7 linked regions of the Homo sapiens genome follow. The protein of the gene in region 1 purifies or fractionates together with the protein of each later gene. This does not show direct contact. Each region holds a gene or a part of one and is shown on either strand. Other genes may lie near its edges.

Region 1 (4,080 bases):
TACAGGCGTGAGCCACTGCACCCAGCCTATTTTTACTTTAAAATGGAAATATATAACATCCAAAAATTGTTTTGCTAATTTAGTATTATTAAAAACAGAACAGGCCAGGCACAGGGGCTCACATCTGTAATCCCAGCACTTTGAGAGGCAGAGGAGGGTAGATGGTTTGAGGCTAGGAGTTCAATCAAGACCAGCCTGGCCAACATGGCGAAACCCTGTCTCTACTAAAATTACAAAAGTTAGCCGGGTATGGTGGCACATGCCTGCAGTCCCAGCTACTTTGGAGGCTGAGGAATGAGAATCATTTGAACCTAGGAGGTAGAGGTTGCAGTGAGCTGAGATCGCACCATTGCACTCCAGCCTGGGTGACAGAGCAAGACTGTCTCAAAAAACAAACAACAACAACAACAACAACAAACACACAAAAAACAGAGCAATTATGGAAATAATTTAGTAATACTCACCTATCAAAGTCTGACAGCTTATTCGGGTTACACCACTATTTACAGGTAAGTCATTTACATACACCTGTCCACTCTCATAGGTTATGTTAAGAACAACCTTAAAATAAAGCAGCATATACATTAATTCCAATATTTATAAACAATAGCAAACTCTTCAAGTCAAAAAAGATTAACTAAATGAGACGTGCAAGTTAAAAAATCAAATAAGCTGCATAGCACTTAGCTAAATTATATATTAAAACCAGAAAAGGAGACAAACCTGCTGTTTAGATATGTCCCCATCATCTTTCAGTGTAGTTACATTAATTCTGATGCCGTCCTGTAAAACAAGTATTGTGTAAATTGGAAGGTGTGCATCTCACAGATTGAGAACAACGTGGCTTTCTCTTTTCCCTCCAATTGTATCTATTGTACAATCACTTATAACAGCATTAAGAGAGTTTAAAAGATCATCTTTTCCATTTTATAGCCATTTTTCCACCCTTATTTACAATTCCAATTATTTATTTATTTATTTATTTATTTTTTGAGAGTCTCACTTTGTCGCCAGGCTGGAGTGCAGTACCGCAATCTGGGCTCACTGCAATCTCCATCTCCTGGGTTCAAGCAATTCTCCTGCCTCAGCCTCCCGAGTAGCTGGGATTACAGGCATGCACCACCACACCCAGCTAATGTTTGTATTTTTAGTAGAGATGGGGTTTCACCATGTTGGCCAGGATGGTCTTGAACTCCTGATCTCGTGATCCGCCCTCCTCGGCCTCCCAAAGTGCTGGAATTACAGGCGTGAGTCACCGCGCCCGGTCTAATTTTTTATAATATATACTTTTTCTATTTACTTGTGAAAAGTATCACATGAGTATATAATATGCAAATATAGAGTTTAAAAGATGAGCACTCCTGTAAGTACCACCGAGGATAAAATATAAAATATTACCCCTACCTTGGCAGGCTCTGCATGATTGCCCTCTATCCCCCCAGAAGGAATCCTATACCCAATTCCATTTGAATCATTTCTTGCTTTTCTTTATAGTTTTACTACCTGTGTCTCTCTCTCTAAACAATATGTTGCTTAGTTTTATCTGTTTCTGAGCTTTATGTAAGTGGGATAACAGTACACATGTATTCTTCCGTAACTGTAGTTGATACTGTTGATGCACATAGCTGTAATCACAGTAGTCCATCTCTGACTACCAATTTACTTATTTATTCTATTACCCACGGACATCTGAGTTGTTTCCAACTTTTTTCCTTTTATAAATAAAGTTGCAATGACTTTTTTTTTTTTTTTTTTGAGAGGGAGTCTCGCTCTGTTGCCCAGGCTAGAGTGCAGTGGCGATCTTGGCTCACTGCAATCTCCGCCTCCCGGGTTCAAGTGATTCTCCTGCCTCAGCCTTCTGAGTAGCTGGGATTACAGGCATGCATCACCACACCTGGCTAATTTTTGTATTTTTAGTAGAGACGGGGGTTTCACCACGTTGGTCAGGCTGGTTGCGAACTCCCGACCTCGTGATCCACCCACCTCGGCCTCCCAAAGTGCTGGGATTACAGGCGTGAGCCACCGCACCTGACCAAAGTTGCACTGACCCTTTCTTGAGTGTGTTTCTTATACAAGCATCTGTAATGCTCCAATTTTATTGCCTCTCAAGGTATTATCAAAAGCAGGATACCCAAATATTGAAGATGACATGCTTTATATACAGAAGCAAGCACTATTTTAAGAAGTATTTACCACTGACCACAGGAACTACAATCTATCATTTCTAAATCAAATTCTTTCCTAAGTTTATTCACAAATAGACATTGTTATTCTGGAATAAAAACAATACTCTCAAATACTTTTTCTTTGAGGTTGTATTAACTTAGAAAATAGGAAAACTGTTCATAAACATCAAAAAGAATATACAAGTATATCTGCTGGCCCTGAGTATCCTAAATACTTTATATATAATTTCCCACAAATGAGAGAATAAGACTGATGAAATTTCATGAGGTCGAGCTGATTCCAGGAATAATTTGTGAAAGAGGATTCATACCACACAAGACCAACATCATACATTTAGGGTGACTTTGGTTCACTTCCCAACTAGGAGCCTAGGAAGCTTTCTAACTAGAAATTCCTCAGAACTAGCCAGCTTTTTCCTGGCTCACCTTGATCTAGACGGTTAGAACCAATAGTGCATCTAAAACAAATCCACATTCAATGAGCTATGAGATTGATAGCTACATTGTTTTGTGTCCAAATTCAAGTCATATGGATCTCCTTTGCAAACTAGAGAATGTATTAATTATAAACTATTATTCTTCTAACAGCCCAGAAGTAAGCCTCCAATGTTGTTCTAGGAAACCATTTTATAGCTTCTGCCTTTTAGCAGTGAACACTATATTGTTAGCAAGTTACTGAACTTTATATATATATATATATATATATATATATATATATATATATATATATATATATATATATATAAAACCTACCTAGTAAAATTACAGAGTTTGAAAAAGACAATTAACAGACACAAGCACACTATATTTTCCAGAGAACCAAGTACAACAAAATTATTTTCTGGTCTTTCTGAATGATTTCACTGCAAAAGGGAATCACACTCCTTACTGCCCCCTGGCCAGGAGTTCAGAGCCAGGTCATATTTATTGTTCTTGAGAACTTCTGATTGAACTGGAAGTTCAGGCTCGTAAGCCAGGGTTGCATATACTTAAAAAGTGCTTGGGGACACTGAAAAGTTTCTCCCTAAAAATCTTCAATTCTTCTAATTCCTTTACTCATAGGATGCCCACTGGGGACATAAGTGTCTTCCTAAGAATAAAGGTAATAGACAGCTGGTTTAAAATACGTCTGAGCGAAATATACAGTTATGCATACAAGAAAGTAAGTGTCCTCCGAATGCCTCTCTTTGGTGACCAAGTTATTTTAGTATTAGAAGAATTTACTATAAAGACTTTTATTTTTCGGTCGGGCATGGTGGCTCATGCCTGTAATCCTAGCACTTTGGGAGGCTGAGGCGGGTGGATCACCTGAGGTCAGGAGTTTGAGACCAGCTAGCCAACATGGTGAAACCCCGTCTCTACTAAAAATACAAAAATTAGCCAGGCATGGTGGCACGTGCCTGTAATCCCAGCTATCTGGGAGGCTGAGGCAGGAGAATCGCTGGAACCCGGGAGGCAGAGGCTGCAGTGAGCCGAGATTGCACCACTGCACTGTGCAGGATGGGGGACAGAGCGAGACTTCACGTCAAAAAAAAAAAAAAAAAGTGACCGGGCGCAGTGGCTCACACCTGTAATCCCAGCACTTTGGAAGGCTGAGGCGGGTGGATCACTTGAGGTCAGGAGTTCGAGACCAACCTAGCCAACATGGTGAAACCCCATCTCTACTAAAAATATAAAAAAATTAGCTGGGCGCAGTGGCGGGAGCCTGTAATCCCAGCTACTTGGGAAGCTGAGGCAGGAGAATCACTTGAACCTGAACCCAGGAGGCAGAAGTTGCAGTGAGCCGAGATCATGCCAGTGCACTCCAGCCTGGGAGACAGAGTGAGACTCTCTCTCAAAAATAAAAAACAAAAAATAAAAAAATAAAAATAAAAATACAAAAACTAGCCAGGTG
Region 2 (4,080 bases), on another chromosome or scaffold:
GTAATGCTCTGAAATGTGTCAAAGTCTTCAGCACAGTTTTTAGAGGCAAAATGGCAGAAATAACAAATGGGATGCAATAAGACCAACTGAATAATCTGCAAAGTTCAATACCTAGTAAATGAGAAAAGCTCTTTTGCCAATAAATATTTTACTAAAGTTTAGACAAATATTTATCTAAGCTTACAAGGACACTGTTTTAGAGGACATACGCCATTAAGTGGATTATTCATTATCCTTTAATGGAAAGGGGGAAATTCCCATCCATACATCTCTTTTTAAACTCAGTGACTAAATACCTCATTTCATGTGTCACAGAATGTTAATATTAGCTTTTCAACTGTGAGGGACATTCTTTACACTGTCAAAACAACTTGTACCTACGGTGTAGTTTCAGTGGAGTTTCAACAATAAGATTATGCACCTCACTATATGTGCATAGAGTGGTCCCTCAGATATTGGAATAGTTGGACAATGACATTTCTAATCAACTTTATTTATGGTTAACTGGGGGTAATACTCTTATGCAGTGAAACTTCTCTAGGGGGCGCTGCTTAGCAAAGTGAACTCTCCTTTTCTGCTGGACGAGAGCAACACATACACTAACTGATCTAAGCTCCCAGTTATGGATGTTTAGAACTATAGCCCTTTACCAACCCCAAGATTTTAACTCTTCCAGCCAGACCATCAGCCCTGGTGTCAACTCACTAAGAAAGAAGCTCATGGAGATCCAAAGTCCAGACTATCTCGGATGGCTCTGGCTGAGCAGAATAAGCTTTATATTTCCAACTGTGTACCACTATTAACTTCCTGTTCCATATAATTTATAAATTAAAATTTATAATTTATAAATGAGAAAGAAACAATAGCAATTCACTCAAGTAGCTCTATACCATACTGGTATAAAAAGAGTTCCATGCATTGTGTGGGAATATGATAAAAGTCAGTTATCGAAAATCAGCAGCCAATGTCTGACTCATCACCTCTGCCTTTCAGGGTGAGGGTTTATTAGGGCTGAGGCTACTCTCCTCATTAAAGGCTCCCAGGATATCAAGAGGCTAATGAAATAACCAGCCAGGAACCAAAAAAGTAGACCTGTGTGCAATTAATCACAGCTTAGTAAAACATTATTTTAAAAATTGTTAATGCTTATTGTTATTATATAAGTAATGTAGACTCAAAGAAAACTCAAAACCTTCAGAAAAGCAGAATAAGAAAATAAATCACTAATAGATCTATTTATATTCTATTATTTTTTTCTTCCAGTCTCTGTCTTTTATGCTTAGATTTGGGAGGGGTAGGAGATGATTTCTCTCGCTCGCTCGCTCGCTATCTTTTTTTCTTTAATATAATTGTAGTCGTACTGGGTCCATAATTTTCTATCTCTTTTTCTCTTAGCATTAAATCACTAGCAATTTTCCATGCTCTATCAAAGGACATTTAAGTGGTTTTGTAATAATCTTTCAAGTGGATGTACTGAGATTTCTTGAACCATTCTTCTCCATGTGGATGTTCAGATTGTTTCCAATTTGTTGCACTTATGATAACTCCAGTTAGTCTCCTAGTATGTGTTCTCATAGCATCCTGTACTTTTCCCCCATGGCACTTCATATAATTTTAAGTAATTGATAATTTGTTTTCTGTCTATCTTTCCCACTCCTACGAAGGCAGGGACCACATCTACCTGGTTCTTCCCGGTAACCCCAGCACATAGCACAGGGATACCAGATACTCAATAAATATTTGCTGAATCAATAAATAAATGAGTGAATGAATGAAAGCATGTATAAAAGTATGTTTTTCTGCAAAATCCCAGAAAAGAAATTATGGGTCATAGAAATAAATATTTTTATATTCTGTGTTTACACTATTTATTTCCAAAAAGATCATTCAAGTTACATTCCCACTGACAATGTATGAGAATTTTGATATTTACCATGCCCTTGTCAGCACTGTCTACTTTTTTTGTTTGGTGGTGATATATGTTGGGTTTTGCTTTGTTTGTTTGTTTGTTTTAATCAGGGTTAGAGAGGCAAAAAAAGTATTCTATGTTTAAATGTGCATTTCTTTAGTACCAGTGAAATAAAACAGTTTTTCCATGTCTGCAAACTAGTTGGGGGTCCTATGTTGTAAATTGTCTGGTCATGTCCTTTGATTCTCTAATCAGCTCGTGAGAGTTCTTTGTACAGTAAAGATTTCAACTTTGTGTCTGTTGTAATTGTGCATATTATTACCAGTTTGAAACCTTTTCGTTTTGGCTTTTTTTTGACAGATAAGCATATCTTATTCTTATGTAATCATAACTATTGATCTTTTTTCCTTTATTCAAACATCCTTTTCCTTGGCTAAGAGTCCCATATGTGAATTGCAGCTATCACTTAAATAACAACGCCAATTGTGAATTCAGATTAACTGGGTCCACAGATTCCCACATATAATGTACGATGGAGCCCTAACCTGCCCCAGAGCCCCAGTTGTCACCTCCTTATAAGTCCTGTCCACTAGAAATCTAGGCAACAGGAACCAGTCATGACTTCTTAGTACTCTCCAGCCCGAACCAGATCCCCTTCTCAACCTCTCTGTTTTGGTGGCTGGTACCACCTACATTCCAGACTAGATATCAGGGAGATAGCTTTACCTAGACTCCGACCTTTATTTACTTTCATGGTGTTTTTGCACTCTTTCCATCCAAGAGCTTCTCATACTTACTGGGGTTCCTCATTGCCATTCAAGTCCTCCACAGTGGAGCCTAACCCCATCTACTTCCCTAACCATTATTACTCCAAGCATGAACCTTTCGGGTCTGGCCAGACCTGCCTAGGTGAGGTTGCTGGACCTCAAAAGGTCATGAGGACTCCGTGCCCACCCACAATGCCTCCTTTCTTCTTAATACAACTCTCCTACTCCCAGAGGCCTTCTCAAAAGGATGTCTCCTTTTTCTGGCCTGTTCCTCATACTTTAGAAAGGAAAGGGCCCTGGAAAGCATGTCATTTAAATCTCCAATTTTATAGATAAGACACTGAGACCAAGGGAAGGAAAAGGGCCTGTCCAAAATCTAAATTTCCTCTCCCAGCACCTGTCTACATGACATAGTCCTGCACTTCACATGCTAATCTTTATGGACTTGAGGCTGAAGATGGTTATCTTGGCTTTTTTGGTTTCTTCTTGGCTCTAATCTCCCCACAACTGCTAGCACCATGCCAGAGACATAATAGTTACTCCATCTGCTTTGCCGATTAGACCCAAACTACAACATAACAGATGGACTTTTGTCTATTTTTTGTATATTCTGGTAAATGTATGACATTTTAAAGACATTATTGATTTTCAAATTGTTTTCAAACAAAATCCATTTTTTAATTAAATATCTAAAGTACTAAATTGTTCTGTTCTACCATAAGCTCTGTGAGACAGAGAATGATGTCTCTTCCCTGGAATATAATGAACAGTTTCACAAAATCTTGCTTAATGAATGACAGAAAAAAACGGATGGCTATTCTTTTAATGTCATTACATACTACCTCAGTTGATGACTGATATCCATGAAAGACAAGCTCTAGCATTTTAATTGCCCCATAGCACTGATCTAAAATTATTATTAAGTGATGTTAATTCTGAATAGCCTTTTGTACTACCTGAGAACTTACAGCTTTGTAAGGACTCCAACACCATGTTCGACATCCATGCAAAGATGCTAATTAATACTACTGGAATTCTACAGATATTGTAATGGTAGATTTCTCCCCCTCTTCTATGAAATAGCTAAGATGGTACCACAGCTCTCAAAGACAGCTGAAGAAATGTATCCTCAGCTAAGTAAAACTGAGCCCAACAGCTTAGAGCCTGATGAACCACACGACCAGTACTGACCACTGGCTGTAACAGTCCATTCTGCTTAATGCCTCAGCCTATATCACAAGCCTGTTGTGTCATTTTGCCTCACTGCAAAATCAAGGAGAAGAAAGAGGGAAAGCGTGGGCTTGTGAGGCATGATCAGGTACACACACTCTATAGTTACAGCTCTTTCAAAATAGAGCCACCTTTTAAAAACAAATGGGAATAAAAGAAAGCTTTTCCCACAAT
Region 3 (4,080 bases), on another chromosome or scaffold:
CTAGCATTTGTCTTACTAACATAATATTGACCAACATATTTTTCACATTACCTTCTACGAAGTCATTTTCATTAAATATCAGTTTCTCTCCAAGGGGACCCTCCTCATCTTCTTGTTCATCATCTTCATCAGGATTATTAATGACCTCCAAGCCCGCTTCAATAACTTCCACCAATTCATCTCGTTTGTCTTTTCTAACTGGCTTTTCTTCAGGATGGCGAGTGAGACCCATTTCCAATTGAAATACTTTCATTAAGGTAAAACTTTCAAAGGGAATGACCCCATACTCACTGGGTAGTTTGGCCCCTATGCTAACTTCAGCTTTGTCAATTTGGGAATGAAGAAACTCTAAAAGATCACTAGGTGCTTGCTCTTTGTTGCTCTGATAGCCTATGCCATTAGCCCCTACATTCCTTCTTTCTTGCAGTGACCGCATCTTCTCACTCATTTCTTGTAATTCTTGTTTTAGTTGGGCAATTTGGCGTTTCAGACTGGTTGCCCTGGTCTGATAATGTTCTTCTTGTTCCTGTAGGAGGGCTTGATAATACTCTTTACCATAATTTTCCCCAACAACACCAGGAAGAGATGCATTTCCATCAGTCTGGGGGGCACATTCCAGGAGGTACATAAATAATACCAAACTGCAGAGCAAAGCAAGGCCCAACAGCAACCAGTGGGTCCGGGTGTGAAGAATCAGTCCTCTTCTAGGCATTCTTATTAATGTGTATTTGCCTAACAAAATAAGCTCTTTGTGTGTTCATACCTTTAGTAAAAAGTTATCAAAAATTAAAAACAAAATCAGAATTTCCATAAAATAATTCTGCCGTAGCTTTAAGTTTTTCTTTCTTCAGCAGTCATGACTACTTGCAGAAATGGGAAATTATGTATACTTTCTGTATTGTTACCATGATATCCAGAATAAAGCAATCTGATATATAAAATCCATTATATTGGTAGTGATTTTTCTGAAAGACACAGATCAGAATCAATCAGAATTTTGTTCCCTTAAGGATATCAAATTTGTTTGTGGCTTCAGTAAACTTAGCTACGTGACTACTACATGCAGAGAACTATGAGAGGTACTAATATAATTTAGAATATTCAGTAAATACTAGGAGAATTTTTTTTTTTTTTTGAGATGGAGTCTCACTCCGTCACCCAGGCTGGAATGCAGTGGCACAATCTTGGCTTACTGCAACCTCTGCCTCCTGGGTTCAAGTGATCCTTCCATCTCAGCTTCCTGAGTAGCTGGGACTACAGGCATCTGCCTACCACTCCCAGCTAATTTTTGTATTTTTAGTAGAGACAAGGTTTCACCATGTTAGCCAGGCTGGTCCTGACCTCAGGTGATCTGCCTGTCTTGGCCTCCCAAAGTGCTGGGATTACAGGTGTGAGCCACTGAGCCTGGCCTGGGAGAATTTTTTAAAATACCTTAAAAAACAATAAACTATGTATAATACTTTTAACTATTATGTCTACACAGCTATAACTTGAATCAAAGAAACATTAAAATTACGTCAGCATAGTCTGTATTACATATATTCTACTGTTCTCTAATTATTTGAAAATTATATTGCCTATAACTCTTTATTAACATAGTATTTCAATTACCGCACCATTTCCCAACTAAAGCTTATGACCATTTGGGAACTGAGTTTATAGAAACTGTTTCTGTTACAGTAATAACGGTTTACTGGAGAGAGAGATTTTCTCCCAGTTTATTCAACTCAAGCATTCTACCTCATTAATTTCTACTGCTCAGCTCAGCCAATCTAGGAGACTTAAAATTAAGTGGGGGAAAGAACAACTTCAAAAGCTCACAGACATCTGAAAAACACATTAAGAAAACATTTTTATATCCAATGTCCTCCAGTAGATTATTTGCACATTAGATCACATAATTCTTTCCACTGTATTATGCATCAACAGATTTCCTACAAGTCTAGAAAGGTTTGGAGTCTATATAAAGAAAAAACATGAAGAATTTAATCATCCTTATCAGCAGAGAAAAAAATTCAAAAACCATTTATACATTTATAAAATTACATGCTATCGTTCATGCCACAACCAGTTGTGCGAACTCTTCCATGTCTTTAATGATTCTTAACTCTAAAAATAGAGGTTTAACTTAGGACAAGGGAGGCAAGGAGGACTCCACTGCAAAGAGAACTTCCATTGTAACAAAGTGCTTGTTGAGAAGGATAATGTGATATGACAGCAGGTTTTTAACAGTAATGGTTTTCTCACTGCAGCAAAACCTGGAAGATCACTACAGGTTATCAGTCCTAGCCACTTTTTTAATGAGTAGAAAAACCTGGATGCTTTCTGTGGCAAATGCTGCAATGCGTATTTTTTTTTTTTTGGTAACATGTCTGTATAAAACATAGGACAGAAGAAAACTTCTTATGGCCAATATACCACAAATAATGGTCTTAACTCTCCTTAGTCATTTATTATTTTAGTAAACGAAATGATAACCAAGTATCTTGAAAAATTTAACTCACTACAAGGGAGTCCTTTTTTTTTTGAGACAGAGTCTTGCTCTGTCGCCCAGGCTGCAGTGCAGTGGCGCGATCTTGGCTCGCTGCAAGCTCCGCCTCCTGGGTTCGCGCTATTCTCCTGCCTCAGCCTCCCGAGTAGCTGGGACTACAAGCGCCGGCCACCACGCCCGGCTAATTTTTGTATTTTTAGTAGAGACGGGGTTTCATCGTGGTCTCATCTCCTGACCTCGTGATCCGCCCGCCTCGGCCTCCCAAAGTGCTGGGATTAGCCACCGCGCCTGGCCAAGGGAGTCTTTTACTATTACAGCATCTCTCTTACTGATTATAAATCTTGTTTGAGTGATGTAGAAAAAAACAGAAAAAAAATAGTTGGCTTTAAGAAATACCATCTAATCAAAAAATAACTAGTATTATTTCCAGGACTTAACCATACCTCAAAACCATAATCCCTAGCATAAGAAAACACTTGAATTTCATTATTTAAAAGATAAACCTAGCGGTATCTGTTTTAACTATTACTAGCCCATTTATTAGGAAAAAGAACTGAAAATGTGGAGACATAATCTTGTATAATAAAGATATACATACTTTAATTAATAAAGATATACATACTTAAGCATGTTATACTCAAAACTGAAGTGAAACTGGGTAACAGAACTACCACTATCTTTTATTAATATGGTACCTCATATGTTTTCTTTATATACACAATGTATTTTAGACTATGAGCTATAACTCAGACAATAGGTCACTACTGAAGGTTTACTTTTCAATAAAATAGAATGGAAATTATCAGTGGCAGTGTTAAAAAGCTAAGGTCATTTTTCTTCCTCTTCCCTTTAAGGGAAATACAGGTTTTGAGATATCCTACTTAATATTACAGTTGAATATTTTCCAATAAAATGAAAGGATACTGTAATTACTTCAGAATGTAAAAGTTGCATAATTCTGTGGTTATTAAAAATGAAAGATTTCAATTAAAATCTTATTTGCCTAGTTCCCGAAAGAAACTCTTTGGCCATAATCTAGAAGATTACATTATAGCTGTTCTATCATATAAATATATTAAGAATATTATAGAAAACATTTTTCTGTTGTTACATCTTGATTGTCATCATTCTATGAAATGTGTTTGTATCATGAATACGGTTCATTCACAGCCCAGAGTTAATCCCAACAAGCCTTCTAAGCACAAATGCAGATAGTTAAGTGTTTTGAGGAGAGAAAAGGATAATGTGAAGATGGGAAAATAAGCTGTTAAAGGTATGTAATATGAAGCCAAAGATCTCAGGATTGAAAGAAACCTTACAAGCCATCAATTCTAACTCTCTAAAACTGCTTAAAAAACTGACTTCCTTTTACGACCAAGATGAAGTAACGGGCCAGATTTACTCTCAGATTTGCTCTCTTTGGTTGTCTTGAAACAACCAAAAACAAACAAACAACTTTTCCTGCCAACAAACCCAAAATATGAAACAATGATTTTCAAGATATTTAACATCAGGTAACAAAGGACAGTGATCCCCAGAGAAACAAGAAACAAGTGGTTGCCAGCTTACTGCCTTAGTTTCTGAGCCAC
Region 4 (4,080 bases), 290 kb from region 1:
ATCCGCACAACCAGTTCCTTGTGAATTAAACTCTTTCTCTATTGCAATTCCCCTGTCTTGATAAATCAGCTCTGTGTAGGCAGTGGGCAAGGAGAACCCATTGGGCGGTTACAATTTCCTTGTACCAGGTACCAGGCCAGGTGAAGTTATAGAAAGAACTTAACTTTCACAACGAATCTCTGAGGTAGGTATTATCATCTGCATAATACTGATGCAGAAACTAGGCTCAGAGGGCTAAGTTACATCACACAGGCGATAAATTTGTCAGATCAGATACTTCTTTTTAATTATTTTTTTATTATTATACTTAAAAGTTCTAAGGTACATGTGCACAACGTGCAGGTTTGTTACATAGGTATACATGTGCCATGTTGGTTTGCTGCCCCCTTCAACTCGTCATTTACATTAGGTATTTGTCCTAATGCTATCCCTTCCCTTGACCCCCACCCCGACAGGCCCTGGTGTGTGATGTTCTCCTCCGTGTCCGTGTGTTCTCATTGTTCAACTCCCACTTATGAGTGAGAATATGCGGTGTTTGGTTTTCTGTCCTTGTGATAGTTTGCTGAGAATGGTTTCCAGCTTCACCCATGTCCCTGCAAAGGACATGAACTCATCCTTTTTTTATGGCTGCACAGTAGTCCATGGAGTATATGTGCCACATTTTCTTAATCCAGTCTATTATTAATGGACATCTGGGTTGGTTCCAAGTCTTTGCTATTGTGAATAGTGCCACAATAAACATACATGTGCATGTGTCTTTATAGTAGCATGATTTATAATCCTTTGAATATATACCCAGGAATGCAGCCCAGTTATTTCTAACTCAAAGGTTCTATCCTTCCACTATACTTCGAGACAACCCTAGGTGTATTCCAGTTACAATAAATATAATTTTACATCCTGAATTTAATCCATCAACTTATTGGTATATTCCTGTTATTGATATTTCTTCATATATCTTAGCACTGCCCATGTGATAACCTAAGCTTCACAATTGCCACTTGAGTTTCCTAATCTGTACTACTGGACATTTACTTTGTTACTTTTTCACCATTATAAATAATGCCATAATAAACATGTTTTGCTCATACGTTCTCTTCAGCATAGATGATTTTCCTAAAAAATATTCCAGAAGTATGAATATTTTAATGGTTTCTGCCACATATTTTCCAATTACTTTCCAAGAGGGAAGTACCAATTTACACCATCAGTGAGCTAGAAGTGTATATAAAGTTTCCCATATGCATGTCAATATGAGTAAAACACTTTTTTGCTCATATGTTCTCTTCAGCATGGTTCCTTTTCCTAAAAAATATTCCAGAAGTATGAAATGAATATTTTAATGGTCTCTGCCACATATTTCCCAACTGGTTTCCAAGAGGGAAGTAGCAATTTACACCATCGGTGAGCACAGAAGTGTATATGAAGTCTCCCATATGCATGCCAATATGAGTAAACCTATTTTTACCAAGTTAATAAATGAAAATTGGCCTTATTTACATTTCTTTGATTCTAAGGTCGAACATTTTTCCATGTTTATCCACCATACCTCCTCTTCTGGGAAGTGTCTGCTCATGTCCTTTGCCCATTTATTTTTATTTTTCTTGCTGACTCATATATATATATATATATATTTTTTTTTTTTTTTTTTTGACCGAGTCTTGCTCTGTCGCCCAGGCTGGAGTCCAGTGTTGCAATCTCAGCTTACTGTAACCTCCGACTCCAGGGTTTAAGCTATTCTCATGTCTCAGCCTCCCCAGTAGCTAGGACTACAGGCGTGTGTCAACAAACCAGGCTAATTTTTCTATTTTTAGTACAGATGGAGTTTCACCATGTTTGTCAGGCTGGTTTCTAACTCCTGGCCTCCAGCAATCCACCTGCGTTGGCCTCCCAAAGCGCTGGGATTACAGGTGTGAGCCACTGTGCCTGGCCCATAAACTCTACGAATAAATAATGTCACATTTTTCCCAGACTCTTGTTTGCAATTCCTTTTGTTTCTTGATATGAAGTTTTTTATAAATGTGCATATAATCTATCCCCTTTCTTTGTGACCTCTTTAATTGATTTGAAACCTGTCTTCCTTCCAGATATGGAAGTTTACTTCCTTTAAGTTTTTTTATGTATGGAGTAATCTATGGCTTAATTTAAAAAAAATTTAATTCTTTAATCCATCTGGAATTTGTGTATGGTCAGAGTTGTAGGTCTAAATGTACTTTCCCTGACACTGCCAACCAGTTATCTTACTATTATTTATTAAATATAATTGTTTATAACACAAAAGGGAGAAGATAAGAATGTGAGAAAGTAAGGCCCTTGGAGAGGGAGAGTGGTCAAGCATCTGCAGAGGGATTAACCTTGAATGGGAAGGTCAACTCTTTTGTTTGCACTTGGCGGAGACAGGGAAAGGCTGGGGGTGGCAGCAGGTGGGTCTGCAGAGAGGAGAGCAGACCTCTGCCTAATAGCTTTGATTTTCCCTGACACACAAGGCAAGGGGCCCACTTCCCAAATTCTTCCCCGAGATACTGGACTTCAGGCTGAATATCCAGCAAAAACCACATAAAGGTTATCGTCCTTGAGTCCTTGGAGGTTATATTCCCTGCTCTTCTGGAATCCTAGCAGCTCTAGCTTCTACCTCTCCTCCCTCCCTCCCTCCCTCCTGCTGTTCTTCACTTTTTATCATGACATCCAGTCCCCCAACCCTCTAGTCATGGGCATGACCCAACCAGGTTCCTAGAACAGTATCATGTACATGCGTGCCACCTTCCTAACTCACAAAGCATGTCCCCCCTTGAACCTCACGACAGCCTGGGATGGAGGACAAGCAGACACCAAGTCCTGGGGGCATGAGCAGGGACTTGTTTGTGGAGACGCCAGGCCCCAGAACTTCAAGCACCCTCCTCTGTTCTACAGATTCTAGCAGGCAGGCTCAGTCACTACAAGACACCTCTCTCCAGCATCTCTCACTCATTCCTGCATCCTCCCGCCTTCCCTACCTCTACCCTCGCAGTCCCAGCCTAGTGATCCCTTTCTCAGCTTCTGCTGGTGCTGCTGGAGAAAGCATAGGAGTTCAGGCTCCACAACCCCATGCTGTGTGACCCTTGGGCAGGTTACTTTCGCTTGCCAAGCCTTGTATACACTAGGGATTATAACAGAACCTAGGCCTTTGTGTTGTTGTGAGGACAGAGTGAGTTCATGCGTGCAAAGGGCTGAGGACAGCACCTAACACCAAAGTCAACAAATGTGGGCATGAAAACAGGGCTGGTGTGTCCTGCTGTAAGTTCGTGCTATCCCATCACCATTTCTTCATGGTGCTTTCATCCACCTCAGATGGATCCAGTCACAGCTCCTCTCCAAGGGCTCTTCTAAACCATTTTCACATGCTCACAACCCAAAAACGAACAATTCAAGAAGGAAAAACTTAGTCTCTGAAGCATAAACAACTTCAACCTGTCAAGCATCTGAGCAGGGGACACACAGGACACTGGGGAACAATTTTTGACCTCCACGCAGAGAGAACAAATGAGCCTCTACAGGAACCTGAGCCGCACCTTCCGCGTTTCCATGTTGCTGGGACCTCAGGAAGTCTGAGCACAGCAGTGTTCTCCCAGAAATGAGGACCAGCACCGCGCTCGCCTATTTTCATCCCAAACATCTACAAAACAATTCCTAGACAAACTCCCCTGGGGAAAGGAAGGGCAACGAAGCAAGCAAGAGGAAAAACAACCCAGAAACTTCTCATAGTAACCTGAAGTTTTTGTTTCTGTTTCTGAGGCAGTGTCTCCCTCTGTTGCCCAGGCTGGAGTGCAGTGGCGCAATCTGTACTCACTGCGACCTCCACCACCACAGTTCAAGCGATTCTCCTGCCTCAGCCGCCCGAGGAGCTGGGATCATAGACAGGCGCCACCATGCCAGGATAATTTTTGTGTTTATTTCTTTTTAGCAAAGACGGGTTTTGTCATGTTGGCCAGGCTGGTCTCTAACTCTTGGCCTCAAGTGATTCACCCGCCTTGGCCTCCCAAAGTCCTGGGGTTAGTTATGAGCCACCGTGCCTGGCGTCTCCAAGTAATCTAAACTTTAAAA
Region 5 (4,080 bases), on another chromosome or scaffold:
GTGTGCAACATGATGCACCTCGCCGTCCTCAGAGATAGACAGGGTCAGGAACACGAGGCTATGTTTTCCAACAGCCTTATTTTAAAGAACATCAGAAACAAGTGACATTCATTTTAATGTATGGTACTGAATATATTTAAAATATAATTTAATATACAATCAATATACAAAAATTATGAGTGAAATATTTTCCACTCTTTTTTGCATTAAGTCTTTGGCATTCGTATGTAGTTTACACAACAGCTCTGCAAATTGGGCTGAGGCACAGGTCAAGAGCTCCTTAGCCCACTGGGGTTAGTGGTGCTGTGCAGGACAGGCCAGCCCCTCAGGAGGTCCTCAGGGGCAGGCGGGGGCTACATCAGGCCCTGAACAAAGGAGGAGAGAGGATGAGGGGACGGACAGAGTCATTAGGGTCAATGATAGGGTGCAGAGAGGATGAGGTAGAGTGGGGAGAAGAGATGGGAGAAGACAGTTTAGGGTCCAGATGGTCTATAGCACAGGACCCACGGCTTCCAGCATGGAATACTCTGGAAGAGCCCTCTGACCTCTGGGGACAGCAGTTAGGACCCTGTCCCTATTCCCTCCATTCCTGCTGCATCTCCAGGAGCAAAACACTTACTCTCAGTGGGATCACCTTCATTTGCTGGAACCAGCAGCCTCCTCCTCTGAGACCTTTCAGCTTCTGCCGGTTCCTGTAACACATAGTGGGGAATGTCCTGGTCAGAGCCAGGAGTCCTACAGTCCAGTACTGACCCCGACCACCAGCCAGCTCTGAGACCTGCAGCACGTCACTTCCAGAACATTGTTCTGAAAGGTCTGGCAACAAGACAGGAGACAAAGGGGCAAGACTCTCGGAAGGAGGCCGATACAGCAGTCAATATTTTAGATTAGGAGTGTATATTTTTAAAACCCCAAGGTTTAATTTGTAATACTCAAAAGTGAATATGTCTTGATGATTTTTTTTTTTTTCGAGACAGAGTCTCACTCCGTCTCCCAGGCTGGAGTGCAATAGTGCGATCTTGGCTCACTGCAACCTCCACCTCTGGGTTCAAGAGATTCTCCTGCCTCAGCCTCCCAAGTAGCTGGGATTACAGGTGTGCACCACCATGCCCAGCTAATTATTTTATCGTATTTTTATATTTTTAGTAGAGACAGGGTTTCACCATGTTGGCCAGGCTAGTCTCAAACTCCTTACCTCAGATGATCCATCCGCCTCGGCCTCCCAAAGTGCTGGGATTACAGGCGTGAGCCACTGCACCTAGCCCTGATGAATGTTAAACCACATAGCAGAGGCCAGGCATGGTGGCTCACACCTGTAATCCCAGCACTCTGGGAGGCTGAGGTGTGAAGACTGCTTGAGCCCAGGAGTTTGAGACCAGCCTAGGCGACATAGCGAGATCCTGTTTCTAAAAATAAAATAAAATAAAATAAAATAAGCTGGGTGTAGTGGCACAAAACTGTCGTCCGAGCTACTCAGAAGCCGGTAAGTCCGAGCTTACTTGGCCTTAGAAGGTCAAGGCTGCAGTGAGCCATGATTGTACCACTGCACTCCAGCCTGGGTGACAAGAGTGAGACCCATCTCAGAAAGAAAGAAAAGAAAAGTAGCAGCAGACATAATAAATTAGAAAATGGACTTACAAGAAGACCCAAAATGCAAAGAAACAGCTTTGATGAGGAATAGGAAAAATTTATCTGAAATAAACTCCCAAATCTCGATTGAGTCATAATAGAACACTTGACTTGAAATATTATCTTCTTTGATAATAAAATTGAATGTTGAAAGGATGTCAATCATTCCTAGAACCATGTATTAATTTAAATTAATATTTGTAAAGTCTAGTGACTATGTGGGCGGGAGGGGTACTAGAGAAAATCTTATAATTCTAAATTTTATCTAATTCTAAATTATAAGATGTGTAAAAATAATTTTGAAAACATATTTGCTGTCTAAGATATTAAAACATATTAGACAGTTTTGTTTGGTGTTGTACATGATATAATCCTTTTCATGTCAATACCACATAAATACATATGCATTTATGTACCTAGATGGTATATGCATAAAGAGTTTAGCAAAGAATCACAAGAAATTATCCACTGTAGTTACCTGAAATAAGAAGGGCCAAAAGGCTGGGAAAGAGTAAAGAAGGCTCTTGGTATGATCAAGTTTTTTCATACTCTGGTGGATGTGTGGCTATGGGTGACCTGCTTTCAAAAAATGATCAGGCCAGGCATGGTGGCTCATGCTTGTAATCCCAGCATTTTGGGAGGCCAAGGAGGGTGGATTGCCTGAGTTCAGGAGTTCGAGACCAGCCTAGGCAACATGACCAAACCTCGTCTCTACAAAAAATACAAAACTTAGCTGGGCACGGTGGCACATGCCTATAGTTCCAGCTACTCAGGAAGCTGAGGTGAGAGGATGACATGAGCCCAGGAGGCAGGGGTTGCAATGAGCCAAGATGGTGCCACTGCACTCCAGCCCAGGTGATAGAGCAAGATCCTGTCTCAAAAAAAAAAATCTTCAAAGTCATTAATAAGCATGGAGGAAGTATTGGCATTGTTCATTTGTTTCCTTTTAAAATCTCTTCTCTTTATTTAAAAAGAAAGTGGTACAGATGCAAGGAAGAAACAGAAACAGTCTAGGTGGAAGAGATCTCTGCCCATATAAACATTTGACATTTTCAAGGATAAGATCTAGTTTTTTTTTGTTTGTTTGTTTTTTTAAAAAAGAGTGAAGAGGAAGAGAGAAAAAAGTAAACATTTGACATGTAGCAAAGGAGGTGGCAAAAGGGCAAAGGCAAGGGAAAAAGGAAGAATTGGTTGCTAAATGGGCTTGGAAGAAGGAAACAGAGACTCAGAATAATTCAGGGAGTTTCTCAGCTTATATTGAATCGAAAATTCAATTCTGTTTAGATTATATTGCTGTATGTTAAAAATCAAATCATTAAAAATAAAACACTGCAGGAAACTGGATAGTCTCATCTTATGTTCGAGGGAAGGACTTTCAGTGCTTACGAGCAATGAACAATAAATGTATATACAGATTTCCTGCCTACTCAATATCACATCAAAACTGATGGATTGATATGAACTGATTGTGTGCGTGTGTCCAATACAAAAGCCCTTTGTGCATCGACTTGGAATCCTACTTTTTGGAAGCTGCCCTACGAACTTTGAAATATGTTCAATGTAATAACAATTTCAGAGTAAATTTAAAACTCCTGCTGTTACAAGCAAGGGCTCACTGACTTCTGTTAGGAGCATACGATGGAGACTGTGCAGCCTTATTCACTCATCAATGAACCCTGTGACCCCCACTCTATGCCTGTGGAGCTCCAGGCTCGGGGGACACAGCAAGGACAGGACAGGGAGTAAGAAGCAGATGTCCTGCAGACTGGCACGGTCACCACCTCAGTGCAGCTGCTCCATCCCCTGCAGTCCCCTGGCTCCTTCAGGTTCCATTTCCCCTGGGCCAGGAGAGCTAAGGCACTGCCCTCTCCCACTGTCTACGAAATCCCAGGTGAGCAGCATGCCAGGAAACAAAATGATCTGTCCCCCACTCACCAGCAGATGCTCTGACTCCCCGGGGGACAACATGTTGACACCTGTTGGCTCTGCTGGCTCCTGGACTTCCATTTCCTGCTCAGGGACCTGGGTGGGCTGCAAGATACTCACGATCTCATTGAGGACATTGTCCTCAGCCCCAGGTCGTTGTGAGCTCTGGAAAAAGACATTGGGAAGGCAAAAAGCCGACTCAGGAGTCCACACCTAGGGCTCGCTGCAGGGTCCTCAGTATGCAGCTGCACCTGACATCCCCACCCCCTCTCAGTGAGGTCACCGCAGGCAGCCCAGACTCAGCACATCCAGGACCCGCTGCTGGGGCCAGGCCCCCAGTGCTGTGCTCAGGCAGACACCCCATCCCTAGGGTGCAGGCTGTGGGGTGAGGATGTCACCTGGGCTGCAGCAGGGCTCACCAGCCTATGTGGTGCTCAAAATGGCCATGTGTCCCCCACAGTCAGCCCAGAGCACCCAGGCCACTTCAGAGAGTCAGGGCAGCCATGAGGACAATGGGGACCCACC
Region 6 (4,080 bases), on another chromosome or scaffold:
TTGCCTTTGTTCTTGCTGCTGACTCTTCTGCTTCTTTTGGTGACCTTCCCACAGCACAAGAGTGGTTAGGTGTGAGGAGGCTAAGAATACCTTGCCAAGAGCTTCAAATAATGTTAAAACCAGTATTTTAGGTGAACCATGGTCCCAAGAACTCTATTTAAGTAATTCCTAGTTCGGTGTCCCAGGAGCATTTGGCTTTACTGCACCTATTTTGGCCACATGTCTTTGTTTAAAAGGAAAAATTATCTTAGGTTATAATACAGCTATTTTGGGAGTACCTTAAGTTTAACATTAGATTACTAGGATTCGAAAAAATGTACCCAGATGGTAGATGCTGATGAGAATTTGACACAAGAATTCATTTGAAATTGAAGCTTTTGTAGTATTAGTCAGAAAAATTTATTGACATCTGGTTTTGAACAGCATAGTGAGTGGAGATTGAGATGATCAGTTAAAATTTAATGGATTGTGGCCGGGCACAATGGCTCACGCCTGTAATTCCAGCACTTTGGGAGGCTAAGGCAGGCATATCACCTGAGGTCGGGAGTTTGAGACGAGCCTGGCCCACGTCTACTAAAAATACAAAAATTAGCCAGGTCTGGTGGCATACGCCTGTAGTCCCAGCTACTTGGAGTCTGAGGCAACAGAATTGCTTGAACCTGGGAGGTGGAGGTTTCAGTGAGCCGAGATCCCACCATTGCTCTCCAGCCTGGGCAACAAAAGCGAAACTACATCTCAAAAAAAAAAAAAAAAAAAGAAAGAAAGAAAATTTAATGGATTATGGAGCTCTACTTCACATTAGTACACCTCGGTCTCTCTGTTTTTCTGTCTCAATTCAAGATAGAGTTCTTTGTAGCGGTATGGTTTAGAGGTGGTATGTATTTTACAAGTATGTCAGTTGGCTCTGTATATCCTGATGATACCGAAGCCAGGACCAGACCCCTACGTCAGTTATATCACTAAATATTCTGTTATTAATTTTCAGATTGGCTCCTAGTCCCAGCCAACTCATGTTTTAAATTAATATAGTTCATTGTCACACTGGACTGGAAAAACCAAATGAAATGTCTTTATTCTATGAAGATGACTTGTGTAGACTATACAGACTAGCAACAGCAGACACTTTCAGTGCGAGTTATTTTAAAAAATTGAAGATTTGACTGGCAGAAAAGTTGCTGAGATAGGGAAAAGGGATATCTATTGACAGATATATGTAGAATTAGGGAGAATTTTATGTTTTCATAAGTGTCTCAATTATTTAAGATTTAATTTGGTGTGCATGTGGAATATAATGGTAACATGGTTTGTCTGTGATTTGTCTTTTGTCTTAACAGATTATTTTTCTAACTTTAAAAAAGTATACATCACTTGAGGCCAGGAGTTTTAAACCAGTCTGGGCAACACAGGAAGACCCCATCTCTACAAAACATAAATTTTAAAAAAAGTTAGCCAGGGTCACAGTGTGCCATAATTGTGCCACTGCACTCCTGCCTGGACAACAAGAGTGAGATCCTGTCTCTCCAAAAAAAAAAAAGTATGCAAGTGATAAATATTCACTACAAAATATTTGAACATGCAGATACACAACAAAAAGGAAAAATTCCCCTGTACTCCTATTACCTAGAAATAACAGTGTTGAACTGTAAATGTCTCATTCTAGGCCTCCTTTCCATTATATGTCTGCCTTTTTAAAAAGGATTATATGATGCCTATTGTTTGGCAAGTTTAGCTTTTTTCATGTAATAATAGTACACTGTAAATATCTATTTGAGTAATGAAATTTAATTTTTTTTTTTTTAAAGACATGGTCTCTCTCATGCCCCAGGCTGGAGGGCAGTGGCACAATCTTAGCTCGCTGCAGCCACGACCTCCTGGGTTCAAGCCATCCTGCTGCCTCAGCCTCCTGAGTAGCTAGAACCACAGGTGCATGCCACCACTCCCGGGTAATTTTTGTATTTTTTGTAGAGACAGGGTTTGTTTTGCCATGTTGCCCAGGCTAGTCTTGAACTCCTAAACTCTCCTAATCTCAAGCGATCCCACCCACCTAGGCCTCCCAGAGTGCTAGGATTACAGGTGTGAGCCACCATGCCTGGCTGAAATTTAATGTATATTTTTTTTGACACAGAGTTTCACTCTGTTGCCCAGGCTGGAGTGCAGTGGCACCATCTCAGCTCACTGCAACCTCCGCCTCCCGGGTTAAAACGATTCTTGTGCCTCAGCCTCCTGAGCAGCTGGGACTATAGGAGTGTGCCACCATGCCTGGCTAATTTTTGTATTTTTAGTAGAGATTGGGTTTTGCCATGTTGGCCAGGATGGCAAAATTTAATTTTTAATGGCCGTTTAGTAGTCCTTTGTGTGATGTACTATAATTTATTTGTCTCCTATGATTGGAATTTAGGTTGTTTCTAATTTTTGCTGACACAACACTTATATGTACCCATTTTGCCTCTTTGAATATTTCCATAGAATAACTTCCTGGGAGTAGAATACTTTTCTTAAAGGATTTGTGCATTTCAAGGCTTTCAAAATACGTTGCCAAATAGCTTTCGAGAAAGGCTATTTATTTCAGTTTTTGGGTTCTTATCTTTCTAATTGGCTTTATGCTTACATTAAAATATGAAATTTTTATTTAGTTGCAGAATGAAGAAGAGTCTGGAGAACCTGAACAGGCTGCAGGTGATGCTCCTCCACCTTACAGCAGCATTTCTGCAGAGAGCGCAGGTAGGTAACAGGGCAAGGTGATCACGGAATCCTTAAAAACACTCTGTGCTTTGACATTACAGTTTAAAAAAAAAAAAGCTTCAGAAGCAGTTGGAAGAAAGGTTACAAAGCAAGTCTGGATTTTAAATAATTGAGAAGTGGATACATTTAAAAATCACCCCCAGTCTCTTACATTCATCTAAGAATGTCTTTTGGTTCAATTGTTATGTATGTACTCTTAAGGGAATGGCTGGGTTTTGTCTGCTAGAGTTAGTGGAACTCCTTTTATTTCAATTCAGCTAATCATCAAAAAATTGTGACTGTTAAAATTCTGCAGCATATTTTGACTACAAGGATGAGTCTGGGTTTCCAAAGCCCCCATCTTACAATGTAGCTACAACACTGCCCAGTTATGATGAAGCGGAGAGGACCAAGGCTGAAGCTACTATCCCTTTGGTTCCTGGGAGAGTGAGTATAATTTGCCATGTTACTTGATGGCTGCTCTGTGGGAATTAAGTTATTTTCATTATCCAATTTTGATTCGTTACTTATGATTGTATTGATTAGTGAAAGTAGAGCTAATTTTAAAAATCAGGTACATTTGCTTTTGGGATAATAAACTCATCTCTTCTTAAAAATGATGAGGTAAATTACTAGTCAGACCTGCTCATTTTTCCTTCATCTCTCCTATTACCACTACTTTTTCAAGTCTCCTGGGATGGCTGAAGTATCTTGAAGCAGAAGCACACTAATGTTTCCTTGATTCTGCACACTTAATATTTTGCTGTTGGGTGGATAGCTGCTAGGGAGGTCTAGGAAGAGAATAAATATATGCAAATTTGTAGAATTAAACTCATAAGAGGGATCTTCACATTGATTTAGATGAACTCCGTTCTTCCAGCAGTCCAGATCATGTCATTTGTGGGGACATAGTGAGTTCAGATTCCATCTAGCCTGATGTTGATTCATGGAGGTGGAGATTGGGATGCCATATAAACCAGTGGAGATTATTGGGCACTCTTGGTTCTTGATGTCAGATATGTGAGTGCTGCATTTGTCATTTTGTAAATATTCATCCAGATTGAGGCTGATGAAGGTAGGGCATTGTGGGAGAATGGAAGCAGGATAAGTCCCCAGAAATGCGGGGACCATCAGGCCTCTAGGCTCTATTCTAGCAAGTAACTGGAGTGAGTGATGAGCAAGTACAGAAGCCTAGTCTGGGCAGTGTGATGGCATAGGCCCAGATGTTCCCCTCTTGGCTTTAAGATAGTAGACAGTTTGCAGACCACACCTACTGTGAGGAGCGAAGCTCCTAAAATCATTGCTTGGTAGAAATAGTTTATGAGCCCAATCTAGGATGATCCTAAATGGCGATGATGT
Region 7 (4,080 bases), on another chromosome or scaffold:
TAGAATCTATCTGCCTCTCAACCCCAAGGACATTCTATCTAACTTCCTTTCAGCTAGCCTTTCCCCTCCAACCCCTGCATCTGTCAGCCACAGTTATCTTTTTTTTTTTTTTTTTTTTTTTTTTGAGACAGAGTCTGGCTTTATTGCCCAGGTTGGAGTGATCTCAGTTCACTGAAACCTTCACACCCCCAGGTTCTAGCAATTCTCCTGCCTTGGCCTCTCGAGTAGCTGGGATTACAGGCACCCACCACCACGCCCAGCTACACAGTTGTCTTTTTAAAATATAAACCAAGACCGGGTGCCATGGCTCACACCTATAATCCCAGCACTTTAGGAGACCAAGGCAGGCAGATCACTTAAGCCCAGGAGTTCAAGAACAGCCTAGGCAACATGATGAAACCCCGTCTCTACCAAAAATACAAAACAACAACAACAACAACAAAAAAACCTGGGGATGGTGGCGCATGCCTGTGGTCCCAGCTACTTAGGAAGCTGAGGTGGAAGGATCACCTGAGCCCAGGAGGTCAAGACTGCAGTGGGCCTTGATCGCACCACTGCACTCCTGCCTGGGTGATAAGAGTGAGACTCTGTCTCAAATAATAATAAATGTAAACCAAATCCCACCATTCATCCCCTTAAAAAGCTATCAGTGGCTCCCCATTGTACTCAAGAGAAGTCCTCAGCAGGGACCCTGCTCATCCATTGAGCCTTGGGTCACTCACCCCTTACTCTGTGGGAAGGTGAACCTGTCCATCATGTCACCTTCTTCTACCTCCTCAAATGCTCTCTGCTCCTTCTAGCAGCTGGGTCTGCACCAGTTTTGTTCCTTTGCCTGGAATGCTATTTCCTGCAGCTTTATCTGGCTAGCTCCCACTTATCCAGGTCTCAGCTTAAGTGTTTTTCTTCATAAAGGCCTTTTATGAGCATATTTTATGTATTTGTGAGTTTGCTTAATGTCTGTCTGACATAAGCTACACAAGAGTGAAGTCTGTCCGTTTGATTCACCACAATATAAGCAGTGTCTGGCACAGGGCCTGGCACATAGTGGTCCCGCTCCATATCCACAGATGAATGAGACAGCCCCTGCCCTCAGGGATTTCACTGATGGGTGGGGAGACAGGCAAACATAACTAATCATGAGACAGCGAGAGAAATGCCGACCCAGGCATGTGAGAGAAAGGTGAGCACAACTTGAGGAGGTTAAGGGAGGGATAAGAAAGAGCTTTCTAGGGCTGGGTATGGTGGTGCATGCCTGTAGTCCCAGCTGCTTTGGGAGGCTGAAGCAGGAGGACCACTTGAGCTCAGGAGCTGGAGGTTGCAGTGAGCTATGACTATACCACTGCACTCCAGCCTGGGTGACAGAGCAAGACCTTGTCGCCACATTTTTAAAAAAGAAAGAGATTACTGGATGAACCAGAAGAACTTGTTTAGAAAAGAGGGAGATCAGCAAAGAGAAAGATTCCAGAAAAGCAAACTGATGTAAGCTCACAAAGGCCACATCTACCAGACCAAAAGTTCTAGCTTTTTGTGCTAGAAATAGTAAGTCATTGAAGAATGTCAGGGGGTGAAAAACATGATCAGAGTAACATGATAAAAACCTTGGCTGCAGTGTGAGGGGTGGGTTTTGCACATTTCACCTCCAGGCCCTCATTCTCAATATTCCTGGGTGAAATGCCCCGCCCGCCCTCACTGCTCTGGTTTCCTGGGCTCATTTCAAGCCCCACCACCTCCAGTCTCCACCTTGACAGTGTTGGTGGATCGAGCTGCTTGGTGCAGAGTCCAGACTGCTGTGAGCCTGTTCTCTTCTGCTACTGTGTGTCTTTTCTCCCTCACTAGACTGAGAGCACAGCCTGTGTCTGATGACTCCCTATACCCCCATAGCCTCTCCCTAACACAAAGCTTTAAGCATGAAAAGTGTTTAATAAATGCTTTATATAAAAATAGTTCTACTTGCAGAGTGTTTAGGAATCGCTTTATAGAGTCTAGCTCTCATAAACCAATGATACCTGTCCCATGGCATCCATGATGAGTGAAACCCTCGCCAGGTGACCCAGCCCAGCGGAGGAAGGAAGGCCTACTACCTGCCCTGATCTCCCAGTGCCATCACTCAAAGTCATCTTACTGTTTGTGCAAGGAAATGCCCTCCTATCTGCCCTAAGACACTGACAGAAGCTGAGGACTTGCCAAATGATAAAGATAGGAAGACAGGAGAACAAGGCTGGCTGAAAGGTGGTCAGCTGGCAGACACGGGCCTGGGTCTCATCTCTGCCCATAAAGCACAGACTGGTCAGCAGTAAGAGACAAGTCCAAGGTCCCTGACCCTGACTACCTGGGGCAGTTGGAAAAGCGGAACTCCAGGTGGGAAACATGAGGAGAATGCCCAGGCAAAGGAAAACAACAGGCCCAGCACCCCCGCCAAGCGGAAGTAGCACGCGAAGTGGGTCCTGGAGGCATTTTGTCCAGTGCAGCTCAGGGCAAATCTGACCCTCAGTCTTCATCAGGCAAAAGGGAACAAAATGCTTTGCAAGCACAGTGGGCTGTTAGTGACACACTCAGGAGGGGCTAGTGACAGCAGCCTTCCACAGAGAGAGTGCACAGACCTAGAAGCTCTGGCACCCAGGGCCCCTACCTGCTCGGGAGGTTGGCTTCAGCTCCAGGCTTTCCTGATCCGTGGCATCCAGGATCTTGTACTTGCTTTTCCTCTTGGGTTTTCCTTTTTGCCTAAAAAACACAACCCCCACCCCTGCTCAGGAAAGAGGTTCTCTGGGAGGATGAGGATGAGAGCCAGATGTGCATGCAGGGCCCTATTTTGGTGGGGCACCTACTGAGAGGGGTGTCCTCTCCTCACTTCTCAGCCAGGAAAGGTGGCAACTGTGATTTGTTCCTCAAATGTTCCTCAGCAATTCTGGAGAAGGGCAAGGGAGCTATGACCACCTTGGCACGGACTCACCATCCCACAGGGGCAATGAAGGACAGATTGGTTAAAAACGTAAAGAAAACAAAATCCTCTGCTTGAAGGGTGTGGGAGGAGACAGGCATTACACTAACAAAGTTGGTAATGGTGGTTGTCTTAGACTGGTGGGAATTTTTAAAAATTCCTTTAGTTCTAAGTTTTATAAGAGGTTATACTGAAAGTTGAATCTCAGCTCTGTCACTATCAACTGGTCCTCAGACAGTGATGTACCTTTCCTGAGCCTAAGTTTTTTTATCTGTAAAATGGGAAAAGGTTATGTGTCTTAAAAATGATATTACCTATAAAAATATTATGGCACACAGTATACACAGAAATAATATTATTAATAATGAAAACATAAAATAAATGTAACCATTCCATCTTAGAAGACTCAATAGGAAGACTCAAATGAAAAAACACAGGACGCCTGAGCCTGGCTAGCCTAAAGTGCATGTGTGGAAACATGCACACTCATGAATCCCAACTAGAAAGAAGGCAGAATTAAAAACTCGCGGGCTATGCTGGTGAGGCTACAGTGTGGTGCATTAAAGAAAACACACCTTACAGATGTGATCCGGGTCTGTACCCCTGGCCCTCACGCTCACTCCCCCACCTTGCCCTGCTCCCGCCCAGCCATGTTTCCCAGGTTCCAAATCACTGCAGTGGCTGCCACTCACTGAAGGAGTGTGCCTCTGCCCTCAGGAGAGTCTCAGGGTGAGCAAAGCTGCCCGTGCATGCCTTAGGTGGGTCAGAACTCTCTAATGCTGACTAAGGACCCAGCCCAGTCCTTCCACGTGGAAGGTGCCAAATACCTCTCTGAGGAACGAATGTATGACAAGAAGCCCGAATGAATTTCAAAGGAAAATCCATCTTACCTCTTACAACAACAGATCACAGTCCAAGACAGGATTCCCAAGGCAACAACAATGACAAAGGTAGCAATGATAACATATAACACGCTCCACTCTGCCAAGAAAATCAAAATGGTGAGGGCTGTGGAGGGAGAGGCTGGGAGGGAGGTCTGGGCTGCTCCCAGCTTGGGCAGGTGTGGCTTCACTCTGGAGACAAGAATGCCTCAGGCTCCCCAGGAAGGTAAGACCTTGGAGTTAAGGGCAGCTGAAGCTTTA

What was found.
Region 2: the proteins of GINM1 (region 1) and HS6ST2 purify together in Homo sapiens (affinity purification with mass spectrometry; 3 studies listed by BioGRID and IntAct, with this or other methods). This does not show direct contact.
Region 3: the proteins of GINM1 (region 1) and CSGALNACT2 purify together in Homo sapiens (affinity purification with mass spectrometry; 3 studies listed by BioGRID and IntAct, with this or other methods). This does not show direct contact.
Region 4: the proteins of GINM1 (region 1) and LRP11 purify together in Homo sapiens (affinity purification with mass spectrometry; 3 studies listed by BioGRID and IntAct, with this or other methods). This does not show direct contact.
Region 5: the proteins of GINM1 (region 1) and TNFRSF10B purify together in Homo sapiens (affinity purification with mass spectrometry; 3 studies listed by BioGRID and IntAct, with this or other methods). This does not show direct contact.
Region 6: the proteins of GINM1 (region 1) and NDFIP1 purify together in Homo sapiens (affinity purification with mass spectrometry; 3 studies listed by BioGRID and IntAct, with this or other methods). This does not show direct contact.
Region 7: the proteins of GINM1 (region 1) and KIAA0319L purify together in Homo sapiens (affinity purification with mass spectrometry; 3 studies listed by BioGRID and IntAct, with this or other methods). This does not show direct contact.

What each region holds. Positions count from the first base shown.
Region 1 is NC_000006.12:149,568,988-149,573,067, reverse strand, and holds part of GINM1 (glycoprotein integral membrane protein 1 precursor), read right to left. Parts: intron 784-4,080; coding exon 724-783; intron 562-723; coding exon 465-561; intron 1-464.
Region 2 is NC_000023.11:132,948,545-132,952,624, forward strand, and holds part of HS6ST2 (heparan-sulfate 6-O-sulfotransferase 2), read right to left. Parts: intron 1-4,080. UniProt on the Homo sapiens protein: 6-O-sulfation enzyme which catalyzes the transfer of sulfate from 3'-phosphoadenosine 5'-phosphosulfate (PAPS) to position 6 of the N-sulfoglucosamine residue (GlcNS) of heparan sulfate.
Region 3 is NC_000010.11:43,151,782-43,155,861, reverse strand, and holds part of CSGALNACT2 (chondroitin sulfate N-acetylgalactosaminyltransferase 2), read right to left. Parts: intron 966-4,080; 5' UTR 713-965; coding exon 52-712; intron 1-51. UniProt on the Homo sapiens protein: Transfers 1,4-N-acetylgalactosamine (GalNAc) from UDP-GalNAc to the non-reducing end of glucuronic acid (GlcUA). Required for addition of the first GalNAc to the core tetrasaccharide linker and for elongation of chondroitin chains.
Region 4 is NC_000006.12:149,857,764-149,861,843, forward strand, and holds part of LRP11 (low-density lipoprotein receptor-related protein 11 isoform 1 precursor), read right to left. Parts: intron 1-4,080.
Region 5 is NC_000008.11:23,023,569-23,027,648, forward strand, and holds part of TNFRSF10B (tumor necrosis factor receptor superfamily member 10B isoform 1 precursor), read right to left. Parts: intron 3,721-4,080; coding exon 3,565-3,720; intron 693-3,564; coding exon 620-692; intron 1-619. UniProt on the Homo sapiens protein: Receptor for the cytotoxic ligand TNFSF10/TRAIL. The adapter molecule FADD recruits caspase-8 to the activated receptor.
Region 6 is NC_000005.10:142,129,175-142,133,254, forward strand, and holds part of NDFIP1 (NEDD4 family-interacting protein 1), read left to right. Parts: intron 1-2,633; coding exon 2,634-2,721; intron 2,722-3,037; coding exon 3,038-3,168; intron 3,169-4,080. UniProt on the Homo sapiens protein: Activates HECT domain-containing E3 ubiquitin-protein ligases, including NEDD4 and ITCH, and consequently modulates the stability of their targets. As a result, controls many cellular processes.
Region 7 is NC_000001.11:35,438,418-35,442,497, forward strand, and holds part of KIAA0319L (dyslexia-associated protein KIAA0319-like protein), read right to left. Parts: intron 3,920-4,080; coding exon 3,829-3,919; intron 2,722-3,828; coding exon 2,630-2,721; intron 1-2,629.